Homo sapiens: one gene and its partners. The protein of the gene in region 1 purifies or fractionates together with the protein of each later gene. This does not show direct contact. Each region holds a gene or a part of one and is shown on either strand. Other genes may lie near its edges.

Evidence for each region. Proteins that work in one complex are often made in the same cells at the same time.
Region 2: the proteins of THOC1 (region 1) and RBM33 purify together in Homo sapiens (affinity purification with mass spectrometry; 2 studies listed by BioGRID and IntAct, with this or other methods). This does not show direct contact.
Region 3: the proteins of THOC1 (region 1) and NCBP3 purify together in Homo sapiens (co-immunoprecipitation; 4 studies listed by BioGRID and IntAct, with this or other methods). This does not show direct contact.
Region 4: the proteins of THOC1 (region 1) and SKAP1 purify together in Homo sapiens (co-immunoprecipitation; one large-scale study listed by IntAct). This does not show direct contact.

Annotation. Positions count from the first base shown.
Region 1 is NC_000018.10:219,548-223,047, forward strand, and holds part of THOC1 (THO complex subunit 1), read right to left. Parts: intron 1-3,500. UniProt on the Homo sapiens protein: Component of the THO subcomplex of the TREX complex which is thought to couple mRNA transcription, processing and nuclear export, and which specifically associates with spliced mRNA and not with unspliced pre-mRNA.
Region 2 is NC_000007.14:155,651,161-155,654,660, forward strand, and holds part of RBM33 (RNA-binding protein 33), read left to right. Parts: intron 1-3,500. UniProt on the Homo sapiens protein: RNA reader protein, which recognizes and binds specific RNAs, thereby regulating RNA metabolic processes, such as mRNA export, mRNA stability and/or translation.
Region 3 is NC_000017.11:3,818,747-3,822,246, forward strand, and holds part of NCBP3 (nuclear cap-binding protein subunit 3), read right to left. Parts: intron 3,307-3,500; coding exon 3,207-3,306; intron 2,607-3,206; coding exon 2,503-2,606; intron 1-2,502. UniProt on the Homo sapiens protein: Associates with NCBP1/CBP80 to form an alternative cap-binding complex (CBC) which plays a key role in mRNA export. NCBP3 serves as adapter protein linking the capped RNAs (m7GpppG-capped RNA) to NCBP1/CBP80.
Region 4 is NC_000017.11:48,133,215-48,136,714, forward strand, and holds the end of SKAP1 (src kinase-associated phosphoprotein 1), read right to left. Parts: intron 603-3,500; 3' UTR 228-602; downstream 1-227. UniProt on the Homo sapiens protein: Positively regulates T-cell receptor signaling by enhancing the MAP kinase pathway. Required for optimal conjugation between T-cells and antigen-presenting cells by promoting the clustering of integrin ITGAL on the surface of T-cells.

The DNA.
Region 1 (3,500 bases):
TTACAGTTTTGATTACGTGGGAACTCCAGACTTTTAAGGAAGTAAAACCGTCAAAACTAAATTCAAAAAGGACAATAAATAAAGGGGATAGTCTAATACTAAATATTACATAGTATTTACTACATATAATATTATATACTTTAATTACACACTATAATATATAAATATGTTGCTATTCAAAGAGGGCAGCCAGGGTATTTTATAGCATTTGAATTTTACCAGCAAATAAACTTTTACATTAAGTCCCTATCCACGAATTATTTTTTCTTTAAACCAGAATTAAACCAAAACTAATAATCAGACCATAATACGATTTCAAGGGTTTAACCTTTAGCTCTTATTTAAATTGTTACCATGGTAGCATGGTTGATTTTTAAAATGCATCTTTCTTGAATTTGTTTTTAGAAATAAAATTTTGATACAGGGTCAAGCAAAGAAATGAGGTCTCAGGATCAGAAGACATCTTCTAGAGTAAAACTAGGAAAATGGGCTCTTTTAAGAAAACTATCCCAATATCCATTCATTTTCTAATGCTACAGATACTATATTCCATTTTATGAACATGCCCCAAGTTATCCATGTCCTACACAGAGATATTTGTCTTCCCACTCTTTGCTCTGACAATGTTAAATGAACATTCTTGCACCTGTCTCCTTGTAGATGAACTGATTTCTTTAGGCACTGGGCCTTCAAACTTCCACTGCAACCCACAATAAGAAATTCATTTTACACTGCAACCCAGTACACACATATATGCAAGTATATGTACAGATATATATAAGTAAAGCTAATGCTTCACAAAAGTATATTTCCTATTTCATTTAAAAAATGCTAGTTGAAATTACTAAATTGACTTTACAAACCACCAATGATTCTCAAACTTAGTTTTTAAAAACACTATTCTGATCAACACACCTACTAGTGGGGCACAGACATCTTTAACATTCAGATAGAGTGACTGTGCCATCAGACTCCTACCAGCAGCACTGGCAAATTATTTTTATCCATAATTCTTATAAAATCTGGGTATTTTTAAATTACTGAATCTCTTAGCTGGAAACTGCTTGCTGTAGTTTTTAACTGTACTTCCAGTTACTAGTGAAGTTCCCCGTCTTCTCAGAGGTTTATTAAGGTTTCTACTTCTGAATCTGACTATTCATTTGTACATTTTTCTACTGGGTTGATTCACTCTCACAGATTTGGCAGGAATCAATCATGTTAGAATTTTATCTATTTTTCCTGGTTTTTGTTTTTATTGATCTTCTCTTTTGATTTTGTTATCTTCTCTATTGTTTGTTGTCTATTTTACTGATTTCTAATCTTATTTTACTTTCTACTTCTATGAGTTTACTTTTCTTCTGAATGACTCTCAGTGTCAGACTCTTATTAGCTTGGTTTTTAGATTTCATTCTTTTTGAAAGTGTAAACACTTAAGGCTATACATTTCTCTTCTGTGTTCTACTGAGTTAGATCTCAAAAGTCTGAACATGTAGTGTTTTCATTATTATTTAGCTCTACATTTTCCAATTTCCATTATGACTTCTTTGATTCAAGGGTTATTTAGAAGTGTGTTTAAAGGAGTTGTAAGTATTTTTGCTTTTGCTATTCACACATAATTTACAAAAACTTGTGGTTTCTGTAAGACCAAGCCTGTTAATTATTTTGTTAAATTCTAAATGTATTACACTAAGTTTTTTCCACCAAATTTATTAAATTCTGAGAAAGGTCTGTCAAAATCCTACTAGATGGTAGGTTTTCTGGGTGGTGGTGGATGGTGAAAACTGACCCTGGGTCAACTTCTCATTCTAATTTTGTCAAATTTTTGAGAACACATTCTTAGAAAATAAAGTTTAAAATGTGTATATTTCTATTTTTTCCTTTTATCTTTATGCAATGATTGCCTTTATTTTTAATAATGCTTTCTGCTTTTAAGCCTTTTCTGCCTGATATCAATATAACTATGCCTTTTAAAAATTACGTCTTTTAAAAGTTCTTTCAGTTTCAACCTTTCCATATCTTTATTTTTAAGGTATATTTCTTATAAACATATAGATGGATCTTTTTTTTTTTTTTTTTTTTGAGACGGAGTCTCGCTCTGTCGCCCAGGCTGGAGTGCAGTGGTGCGATCTCGACTCACTGCAAGCTCCGCCTCCCAGGTTCACGCCATTCTCCTGCCTCAGCCTCCCAAGTAGCTGAGACTACAGGCGCCTGCCACCACACTTGGCTAATTTTTTGTATTTTTAGTAGAGACGGGGTTTCACCGTGTTAGCCACGATGGTCTCTATCTCCTGACCTCATGATCCGCCCGCCTTGGCCTCCCAAAGTGCTGGGATTACAGGTATGAGCCACCGCGCCTGGCCGATAGATCTTTAAAATATAACACCAATTTCTGTCTTTGAGCCAGAAAGTCCATTTCCATTTATATTTGAATTTAACCATACTGTTTTGTACTTTCTGTTGTGTTTTCTGTGCTTTTTTCCTCCTCTCCTACCTTCTAATTTACTTGCTTAAATTTTCTGTATTTACTTTTACCCCTCAATTTATTTAAAAATTACATATTCCATTTCTTTCACATACTTTACAAGCATGTTTGACTTAAACCATAACATTCTTTAATTCTGACCACCCCTTCTTGTCTTACATGTCACTTTTATCAAGTTTACCTTTTAAAATAACCCTAAATAATAATTATTACTATTTTATAACAGTGAATTCTTGATAAGATTTATTCAGATTTCTTCATGTTTACCAAAGTGTCTACACAGTAATCCTTTCTGCAATTTACTCCTTTCTGGGTTCAGTTTCCTTAAGACAGCTTTTTTACTGGGGACTGTTGATAATTTCTCATAGTTTTAGTCAATCACTCAACCACAACTGTTTAACTTGTTACAGAATTTTTTAGTTGAAATGTTGAAAAAGCAAGTAATACTTCTAGAAATGAGAAAATATAGTCATTGAATTTACAAAACGAGCAGGTTTAACAGCAGTCTGGACATAGGGAAAGTAAGAATTACTGGATTAATGATTAAGAAATCACCCAGAAAGCAATACAGAAGGAGCAAGAGTTGGAAACGATGAGTTAATGATAGTTGAGGAGGTCCAGCAAACATCTAATGGCAGAAAGAAATAATAGAGAATGTGAAAGACATTTTCAAGCACTCATCCCACTGTCTTCTGATTTTTGTTGTTCTTGAAGTCAACTGTTAGTTTAACTTTGCTCCTTTGTAGGTTGTCTGTTTTTTCTCTCTGGTGACTTTATTATCATGTACAGAGATATGGATTTATTTGGTTTATCCTCCTTAAGTATTATACTTCTTGAACCTATGAATTCATGCCTATTCTTAATAATTAACTCAATTATTGCCTCTTTCCCATTCTCTATTATTTCTTTCTGCCATCAGATGTTTGCTGGACCTCCTCAACTATCATTAAGTCATCGTTTCTAACTCTGCTCCTTCTGTATTGCTTTCTGGGTGATTTCTTAATCATTAATTAACCCA
Region 2 (3,500 bases), on another chromosome or scaffold:
AGCCACTGCACCTGGCCGACAGCTTCTTGAGTGTGTGTGTTGAAGGTAAATTTTTTGAGATTGAGACTCCTGAGTCTGAAGGAAATTTTAATTTTCACAACTTGATTGGTGGTTTTGTTGGGTCCAGAATTTTAGATTTGAGTTTATTTTTGTAAGATTTTTGGCGGTATTGTTGTGTTTTCTGGCATCCAGATCTGCTCTTGAGAAGTTTGAGGACATTCTGATTCCTAATCATTTTTTATGTGACCTTTTTTCATTCTAGAAGTTTTTAACAACATTTTCTCCTCTTTGTTTGACATTTCATCCCTTAAACTCAGCCATTTAGAAGGCTTCATGGCTAGGCCAGGAGGTGGAGGTTGTAGTGAGCCGAGATCGCACCACTGCACTCCAGCCTGGGCAACAGGGAAACTCTTTGTCTCACCAAAAAAAAAAAAAAAAAAAAGGGTCTAGGTTCCTGGGAAAAGAAATGAGTGTCAGTTCCTATAGATTTTAAGTCATGATGGGAACATCCAGTAGGCTGAGCTCAGCTCACTTGCCTCTTCTCGGCTACCCAAGTTTATAGAGCAAGCCTTTATAACTTCCATAATAGGAGGGGTCCTATCTCATATCAAGCAGGAATTCTATTATGATTGATTTTTAAACCCTGAATGATGAAAGTTTGTTGAAAGACAAACAAATGACCAATGAGGACTACACTTCATAAACAAAATAAAAACTTCATTTTAGGGAGAACCTCTCCTGGGGCCCGTGTAACATAGGAGATTTTTAAAACAGTGACTACAAATTATTTCTAAAGCAACATGGTGTAGGAACTCTTTCTGAAAATTTGGCTTGGCTATTCAGAACTTACTAGTTATGCTGTAAGGCTCATATGTTCACTTCGAAAGTTATTGGACATTACCTGATTTGTAGTTAATATTTAAATAAAGGATCTGGATTTCCTCATCTATAAAATAAGGAATTTTGACTATTAGTGATTTGGACTAGGAACATATTATACATGAGTGTGATATTGAGGAAAAAGAAGGTTGAGAACCTTTGGAATACAAAGGTCAGCAAACTTTTTCTGTAAAGGGTCAGATAGTAAATATTTTAGGCTTTGCAGGGCAGATGAGTTTTGTTGGAAGTGCTGAACTCCGCCGTTTACCTTGAAAGCAGCCATAGACAATATATGCCTGAATTGGAATAGCTGTGTTCCATTAAAAGCTTATTTACATACACGGGTGGTAGCTAAATTTGGGCAGAAACAGGTGGCAGGCCCTACTTGGCCCATGGGCTTTGGTTTGCTGACCCTTAGATTAGATAATTGCTAGAACCCTATCACAAGCTAATAGTCTATGTGGTATCTTATCCAAGTCGAGGATTCTGGAAAAGAAGAAGAAATAGAATGGTAAGTAAAAGTTTGTGTTAACTGTAGATGTCTGATTGCTGCATGATAGAGAATTGTAGAAATCTAGTAGATATCTTCAGTCTTGAAGGAAAATTGATCCCCCTATTAAAATAGAATGTCTTGTACAATGTTTAGGCCTTAGAAGGAGATTTTCCAGGTAAGGAGGTCATTGACCTCTTTCGTTTTGCTCAGTTAATATTTTACCCCTTGGCTTTCATGGATGTGCTGTTCTTCCTTTAAAGTTCTGGACTAATGGGGACACATTTTTTCTTCTTGGTTCTGTTTAATATGACTGCTATGAACTGGAACTTTAAAAAGTATTTGTATTCTAAAGGAAAACAGAGGGAAATGACTCAGAATATATTAAGAATATAAACAGGCTGTACAGGGTTCTTGTGTTAGCTTGCCCTGTAAGATTTTGAGTCATTATTTCACTTAGCATGATGTCTTCAAGATTCATCAGTGTCGTAGCATGTGTCAGAACTTCCTTTTTAAGGCTAAATAATATTCCATTATATATCTATACTATTTTTTTTTAAACCATATATCCTTCAATAGACACTTGAGTTGCTTCCACCTTTTGGTTATTGTAAATAATACTAATAGGAGCTTGAGTATATTAATGTGTCTTCAAGTGCCTGCTTTCAGTTCTTTTGAGTGTATACCCAGAAATGGAATTGCCACGCCAGTCCTTGGATTTAGGGGCCAGTCTTAATCCAGAATGACTTCATTTTAACTAATTACATCTGCATAGATTCTATTTCTAAATAAGGCCACATTCTGAGGTTCTGGTGGACATGCCCTTTTGGGGGATGCTGTGGTATGATAAAAAATGAATATTTTTTTCTGCCCAGGTTCCCTCGGCAGAACTTTGGAAACCCTTTGAATTTACTATCTTTTCTACACTAATGAGATGGCTTATAGCGGGGGTGGGGGCCCTAGATAGCTTTGGGGTGGGGGCTTGTCAGAAAAACTAACCCCATGTTAAGAGGGTTAGAACGTTCAGGCTCAACCCCCAGCCTCCCTCGAGGGGAGGGGCTGGAGATTGGTGGTAATCACCATTAGTCAGTGATTTAATCATCAGGTTTAGGGAGCTTCTGAGTTGGTGAGCACCTCCTCGTGCTGGGAGGGTGGTGCACCCTGACCCTTCAGACTGGCCCTGTGTACCTCTTCATCTGGCTCTTCATTTGTATCCTTTATAATAAACTGTAACAGTAAGTACGGTGTTTTCCTGAGTCCTGTGAATTGTTATAGTAATAGCAATGGGGGGAGGTGTGATAACCCCAGAATTTGTAGACTTCAGCCAGGGAGAAGTGTGAGTAGCCTGGGCACCTCATTGCAGTTGGCATCTGAAGTGGGGCAGCCTTGTGAAACTGAGCCCTTAACCTGTGGGGCCTGCCCGAACTCCAGATGATTAGTATTAGGATTGAATGGAGTTGTTGGTATTGCAGTATGATTGTGCAATTTGGTACAGTCAGCAAGTCAAACTTTTAAAAAATATTGCAAAAGATGGCTGAGTGAAGTGTAATAATACACATGCAGCATTTTAAAAACCAAACTTATTAACTTCTACCCCACCCTCAAATAAACCAGCACGTATATCCATCAATCCACAACTAATCCAGATTCAAAATACTGATGTTTTCATTGACTTCTCCTTCCTTGTTCTATTCAGTTAGTCAACATGCCTTGGAATTTCTAAATTGACAGTTTCTGGTTCATGCATTTGTCTTATTCTCCCTTCTGTTTCTTCACCGTGATGCTAACCACATTTTTTTTTCTTAATGGTTGGTTTGTAGTTACTTTGTTTTACCATTGTTTATGTTTTATCGATTAATTAGTTCTTGCTTCTTGCTACTAGATTACCTTTCCTAAACTGAGGCTGTGTTGCATATGAAGTATAGATTTCTTACGTTGCTTTTCTAGTAATGCCCCAAATCTTTACCACCTTTTCTTTCTGACTACTTCTCTCTATGAGTGTGCTTTCAACTCACCTGAACTCCTTGCTGTGCTCTAGGCTTGTGGAACTCAGCCTCTGTGCTGTTATTTCCCTGGAATGCCCATCTACTTGACAAAAATGTAGTTATTCTCAGCCTTCATCTCAGTTATT
Region 3 (3,500 bases), on another chromosome or scaffold:
GGCTAGGTAAAGTATGATGCAGCAGCCTAACCAAATACCATAAAGTCATTTAAAATACAACTGACCTTTATTATTCACAGATTTTGTATTTGCAAATTTACCAAATTTATTTGTAACTCCAAAATGAATACGTGCAATGCTTCCATGGTCATTTGCTGGCACGCACAGAGTGGCAAAAAAATCTGAGTCACCAGGCACACACACTCCCAGTGGAGGTCAAACAAAGCAACACTCCACCTTCCTGTTTCATCTCATGCTGTAAACAAGCGTCTGTTTCAGTCCACCGAGTGGCACATTTTTCACACTTCTGTGCCTGCTGCTAGTGATTTCACTGCTTAAAATGGCCCTGAGTGTCGTGCCGAAGTGCTGCCTAGTGTTCCTAGATGCAAGGGGGCTGTGATGTGCCTTGTGGAAAAATACCATATCAGGTAAGGCATTCAGGCATGAGTTATAGGGCTACTGGCTGTGAACTCAATGTTAACGAATCAACAATGTGTCTTAAATAAGGTGTCTTAAAGAGAAACATATGGGCCCAGCGCGGTGGCTCACGCCTGTAATCCCAGCACTTTGGGAGGCCGAGGTGGGCAGATCACGAGGTCAGGAAATCGAGACCATCCTGGCTAACATGCTAATACCCTGTCTCTACTAAAAAATACAACAAAAATTAGCCGGGCATGGTGGTGTGCGCTTGTAGTCCCAGCTACTCGGGAGGCTGAGGTAGGAGAATGGCGTGAACCCGGGAGGCGGAGGTTGCAGTGAGCCGAGATCGCGCCACTGCACTCCAGCCTGGGCAACAGAGCAAGACTCTGTCTCAAAAAAAAAAAAAAGAGAGAAACATATGTAAAACAAGGTTACATATTGATCAACTGACAAAAATGATGTGGCCAGAGGCTATGTACGATTCAGTATTTGCTACTTCAGTGTTCACAGTGACTTTATAGAACATAAGCACCATGAATAATGAAAATGGAAAAATACAATAAACGAAAGAAGTAGAATATAAAGTACATGTTCCCAAGAGTTATACTATTTATTATGAAAACAAATGGGAAAAATGTAAGATGAACTCAGTCATCATACAGGGTACTAGAAATAGGGGCAATTTGCTTTTTAATTTCCTTAATATGGATATAAAAAGTATATGATGAAAATATTTTAAAGTAACTCAAATTGGAAAAGTGTAACTGTGTAACAGTAAAGTATGTGTATTATTATTATTATTTTGAGACAAAGTCTTGCTCTGTCGCCCAGGTTGGAATACAGTGGCACAATCTTGGCTCACTGCAGCCTTGACCTTCCAGGCTCAGGCAATCTCAGCCTCCCAAGTAGCTGGGACCACAGGTATGTGCCATCATGCCTGGTCTGGCTAATTTTTTAATTTTTTGTAACGACAAGGTCTCACTATGTTGCCCAGGCTGGTCTCAAACTCCTGGTTTCAAGTGATCCTCCTGCCTTGGCCTCCCAAAGTGCTGGGATTATAGGTGTGAGCCACTGTTCCCATCCTATGTGTATTATTAACATGTAGATCTCAAATATACAATTTTGTATATACACATTAAATAAAACATCTAGACTTCATCCCTTTCTGTCCCCATTACAATGATAAATGTGTGTATATGTTATTTTGTATGCTGACTTGACTAGTTCTATTAGGCATGTAGAAGATTCCATAGATTAGGCTCAAAACAAGAACAATTCTTTATAAAACATAAATAAAATGGTTCTTTTACAATAAGCACCAAAAAAAGGAGAAAGAAACCCAAGTCATGATATCCCACTCTTCTGAGGCATTCACATGCACAAACCAACAAGCACAAAGCACTCAACACAGCAGCCTATTTTTAATACAGAAAAAGAACAATACAATCAGTTCATCTGATAAAATAATTTCAAAAATTGTTTTTGGCTAGGCGCGGTAGCTCACACCTGTAATCCCAGCACTCTGGGAGGCCAAAGTGGGTGGAACACAAGGTCAGGAGTTCGAGACCAGCCTGGCCAACATGGTGAAACCCCATCTCTACTAAAAATACAAAAGTTAGCTGGGCATGGTGGCGCATGCCTGTAGTCCCAGCTACTCGGGAGGCTAAGGCAGGAGAATTGCTTGAATCCAGGAGGCAGAGTTGCAGTGAGCCGAGATCAAGCAATTGCACTCCAGCCTGAGAGACAGAGCGAGACTCCGTCTTAAAAAAAAAAAAAAAATTGTTTTCATGCAGCTGTTGATATTAATAGTAGAAAAATTAGGATCCTAAGGAAAGTTTTGTTTTAATTTTTCCTATGTCATATTTTGCCTTTTTTGATAGAACAGCTTTTATAAAATCATTTGACCTCTTTGGGCAACTTAAAATTAATTGTGACTTGACTTACTTTCCTATATGTTGGCAGAGGGTGAGGGCAAGGAAGAGAGGATGATAAAGTTTGGAACCTTAAAAGATTGCATTAAGAATAAAAATATGATTTCAGGAGCCAAACATGTGTCTACCCAAGAGCTGAGCAGGCAACTACCAGAATGTCGATGTTTATACGACGTCAAGCCAACGTCATCCCCAATCAGGGCTCTCTTCTTGATCACGTCCCGCTGAATACGACGGGAATGATATCTTCGCTTCCTGCAAGAATGCCAAAATAAGCACACAATCAAAAACTGATAGGAAGGACCTTGAAATCCACTATTTCTTTCTCTTTTCTTTTTTTTTTGTGATGGAGTCTCAATCTCTCTCCCAGGCTGAAGTGCAATGGCACCATCTCAGCTCACTGCAACCTTTGCCTCTTGGGTTCAAGCAATTCTCCTGCCTCAGCCTCCCGAGTAGGTGGGATTACAGGCGCCCACCACCATGCATGGCTAATTTTTGTATTTTTAGTAGAGACGGGGTTTCACCATGTTGGCCAGGCTGGTCTCGAACTCCTGACCTCAGGTGATCTGCTGGCCTCGGCCTCCCAAAGTGCTGGGATTACAGGCGTGAGCCACCATGTCTGGGCTCGCTAATTCATTTCAACTACACGTTGACACAATGTTAGGTACTAACACAGATATTTTAAATGTAACTACAATTCAGCATTCCCCATCATTTACCACATCTAAGAATCTTGAATTCTTCCCTCTTGTTTTCCTTCCAGTTTACACAGGGTTTAGACATTTCACCACGGAATACCAACTGAAGGATTAAGAAAAACTCAAATACTATTGCATTTGAAGGTTTTGGACTCACCATGAATTGCTAAGAATTCCTTTCATGCCTCCATAATTTGGATTCCCATATTTCATGTAATACTGACTTCTTCTGGCTGCTCCAAGTTCCTTTTTGTCATCTAAAAATTAATGACAATAGTTACCTAGGATTTCCTGTGAGTGTAAAGACAATGTTGAATTTTTTTTTTAATGTTTTCCATAGCTGGAATCAGATCAGCGCAATTTGCCAACAAAAAGTAAAAATCCACTACCAACATTCACACTCTGAGTGCCCACTACAGCAATGCAGTGTAGAGGGGATAAAGCAAAATAC
Region 4 (3,500 bases), on another chromosome or scaffold:
GGCAACAGAGCAAGACTCTGTCTCAGAAAAAAAAAAAAAGACAAAAAATAAACAATAGACGTGGATTCCAGAGAAGATTCTGCTCTGAAAGACAATTCCAAGTCTCCTTTTTTCTCTGGGCTTTTGTTTTCTCTCATGCTATCTCCACTTTATTGGGAGGTGGTAAAAATGCCCAGAGCTGACATATTGATATCATCTTACAAAAAGGAGCTCAACATCATCACACATGGCAAGGAACCACATCCCAAGTTTATTTGTGCTTTTCAAACCAGCCAGAACAACCAGTAATGTCCTCCTCCCAAGGTTTCCTTCTCTCTCACCTTCTTTGTGAAAAGCTTGTGGAAAAGGCAGATGTGGTTGTGTGGACACATTTAGAGATGGGGATGAGCTATGACTAGGCTGGTTTAGTAACAGGTTTGATGAACGTGCCTCTTCCCACTTGTCTTACTGGTAGCTTACAGTCACTCTGAGGTGTCAAGAGACTTGGGTCTCTTCAGCAAAGAGAGGAGTCCAAGGCGTTGGTGGGGTGGCAGAAGTAGGGAGTGGGAACTTTTGATGATCAGTTTCCTCATAAAGGCAGGAGAGAGGGAAGAATATATTTCCTAAAGGAGGAAAAATACATAAATTTGCTTTTGTGATTCAAAATATAGATGTATTAAAGGGCACAGAGTATAATGTTTTCCCCCTTACCCTGTCTCACAGTTTCTCTGTCCTTGGAGGCAACCATGTTATCATTTCATGTCTCCCTCCAGAAATATCCCATACAAATATAAACAAATAGGTATATATAGTCTCCAGTCCTTTTTTATACAAATGGGGCAAATTTGGCTCCCATTCTTTGCTGTTTTATTTTTTTTAAACTTACCAACATATTTCAGAATGTATTCCACACAGTTTCCCTTTCTTTTTTACTGTTGCATAATATTCACTTCTATGAATGTACTATAGTTATTTGACTAGTTCTCTGTTAAACATTTAGGTCATTTCCAAGTGTTTGCTATTACAATGAACCGTATGTGCCTGTCATTTTGCATATGTGCAAGTATAGCTGTAGGATAATTTCTATTTTTTTTTCTTTTTTTACCCAAACCAAAAATGGTCAATAGGATAAATTCTTTTTTTTAGATGGAGTCTTGCTCTGTTGCCCAGGCTGGAGTACAGTGGCTTGATCTCAGCTCACTGCAACCTCCGCCTCGTGGATTCAAGCAATTCTCCTGCCTCAGCCTCCTGAGTAGCCGGGTTACAGGCGCCCGCCACCACGCCTGGCTAATTTTTGTATTTTTAGTAGAGATGAGGTTCCACCATGTTGGTCAGGCTGGTCTCGAACTCCTGACCTCGTTATCTGCTCCCCTTGGCCTCCCAAAGTGCTGGGATTACAGGCGTGAGCCACTGCGCCTGGCCAGATAAATTCTTAGAAATAGATTTGTTGGGCCAAAGACAATGAAGAGATAAACAAATAAATGACAGAGTGAAAAGGGTGAATTTGTTTTTTATTTTTATTTATTTTTTTTGAGATGGAGTCTCTGTCACCCAGGCTAGAGTACAATGGCGCGATCTCGGCTCACTGCAACCTCCGCCTCCCAGGTTCAAGTGATTCTCCTGCCTCAGCTTCCCAAGTAGCTGGGATTACAGGTGCCCGCCACCATGCCTGGCTAATTTTTGTATTTTTAGTAGAGATGGGGTTTCACCATGTTGGTGAGGCCGGTCCCGAACTCCTGACCTCAAGTGATCCACCTGCCTTGGCCTTGAAAGTGCTGGGACTACAGGTGTAAGCCACCATGCCCGGCTGGCTGGATTTGTTTAGATTTGACAGAAAAATTCCAACCCTCTATACTTGTGGCCATGAAACAGTCTTCATCAGGAAAATCATAAAGTCAAACCTTGAGTGACAGGCCTGAGCTGGTGTTGTATGGTTGTACAAGGGCATTGGAGAATAAGATCTATCCTTATGTATTTTCCTAAATGAGTTCACTCAGCTGCTGCAGCACACTAGAGTGGGCTCTGGTCTGGACTCCAAGGAATGTTTGTATCACTGTCACACTGATGCCATTCTTTACCCCCAGCAGTGAAGACTGCTCCTATTTCAGGCCAGAAGATGGAGCTAGTGACAACATGCTGGTCTTGGGGGCCCTCCATCAGAATCTTAATTCTAACCAAAACCCACTCTGCACCAAAGTGGCTCCCACTATTACTCCACCCAAACCAGGCACCCACCCCCACTATTTTGAAACACAATGTGGTTCTTGCTAATACAACACAAACCTATTCTTTTTCTTTTTTTGAGACAGGATCTTGCTCTTTCACCCAGGCTGGCGTGCAGTGGTGCAGTCATGGCTCACTGTAATCTCAACCTCCTGGGCTCAAGCATTCCTCCCACCTTAGCCTCCCAAGTAGCTGGGCCTACAGACGTGCACCACCACACGTGGCTAATTTTTTAAAAAAAATTTTGTAGAGACCTTCTGCCCAGGCTGGTCTCAAACTCCTGATCTCAAGTGATCCTCCTGCCTTGGCCTCCTGAAGTGTTGGGATTACAGGTGTGAGCCACTGTGCCTGGCCCTGCAAACCATATTCTCTATTACTTAAAAGTTAATTTGATTATGTTCCATAGTTCCAATATTTCATATGTTCCAATATAAGGAATCCTCATATTGGATTCCTAATCTTGGTCAGTCATATTGCAATATGTGGGGATTTTGGGGAAATGGTGCCCTGGGTTTGAGAGCTGGGGATAAACCTAGATCCATCCCTGTGGCAAAAATTGCTAGTTTTATCCCAATATCCATTCTTCCCTTTGTATTTAATCATGAATCTCCCAATTCTAAGCTGGACACAGGGCTATAAGCTTTCTTTACAGCTTGCTGTGTCCATATATTCCAACTTCTGACCAATGGAATGTGAAAGGAAGTGTGTGCGCAACATCTGTGAAGTACCCTTAAAGGAAGAGGGTATGCTTTTCTCTCTCTTTTTTTTTTTTCTCAAGACAGTCTTGCTCTGTTGCCCAGGCTGGAGTGCAATGGCGTGATCTTGGCTCACTGCAACCTATGCCTCCCGGGTTCAAGCGATTCTCCTGCCTCAGCCTCCTGAGTAGCTAGGATTATAGGTGCACACCACCATGCCTGGCTAATTTTTTGTATTTTTAATAGAGATGGGATTTCACCATGTTGGCCAGGCTGGTCTTGAACTCCTGACCTCATGATCCGCCCGCCTCGGACTCCCAAAGTGCTGGGATTACAGGCGTGAGCCCCTGCGCCCGGCCTGACCTTCTCCTTTTATCTTTCCTGCTGTGCTGTGTAGGTTGCAGACAGGATGGCTGGAGATTGAGCATCTGTCTTGGCCTTGAGGTAACCTTGAGAATGTTGGGCACACAGAGAAGAACAAAAAGAAAAGGTACCTGGGACTGGATACCTTGGACCACTTACCTCTAGATTTTTGCAGAAGAGAAAAATACATTTCTGTGTTAATTTTTTTTTTTTTTTTTGAGACGGAGTCTCACTCTGTTG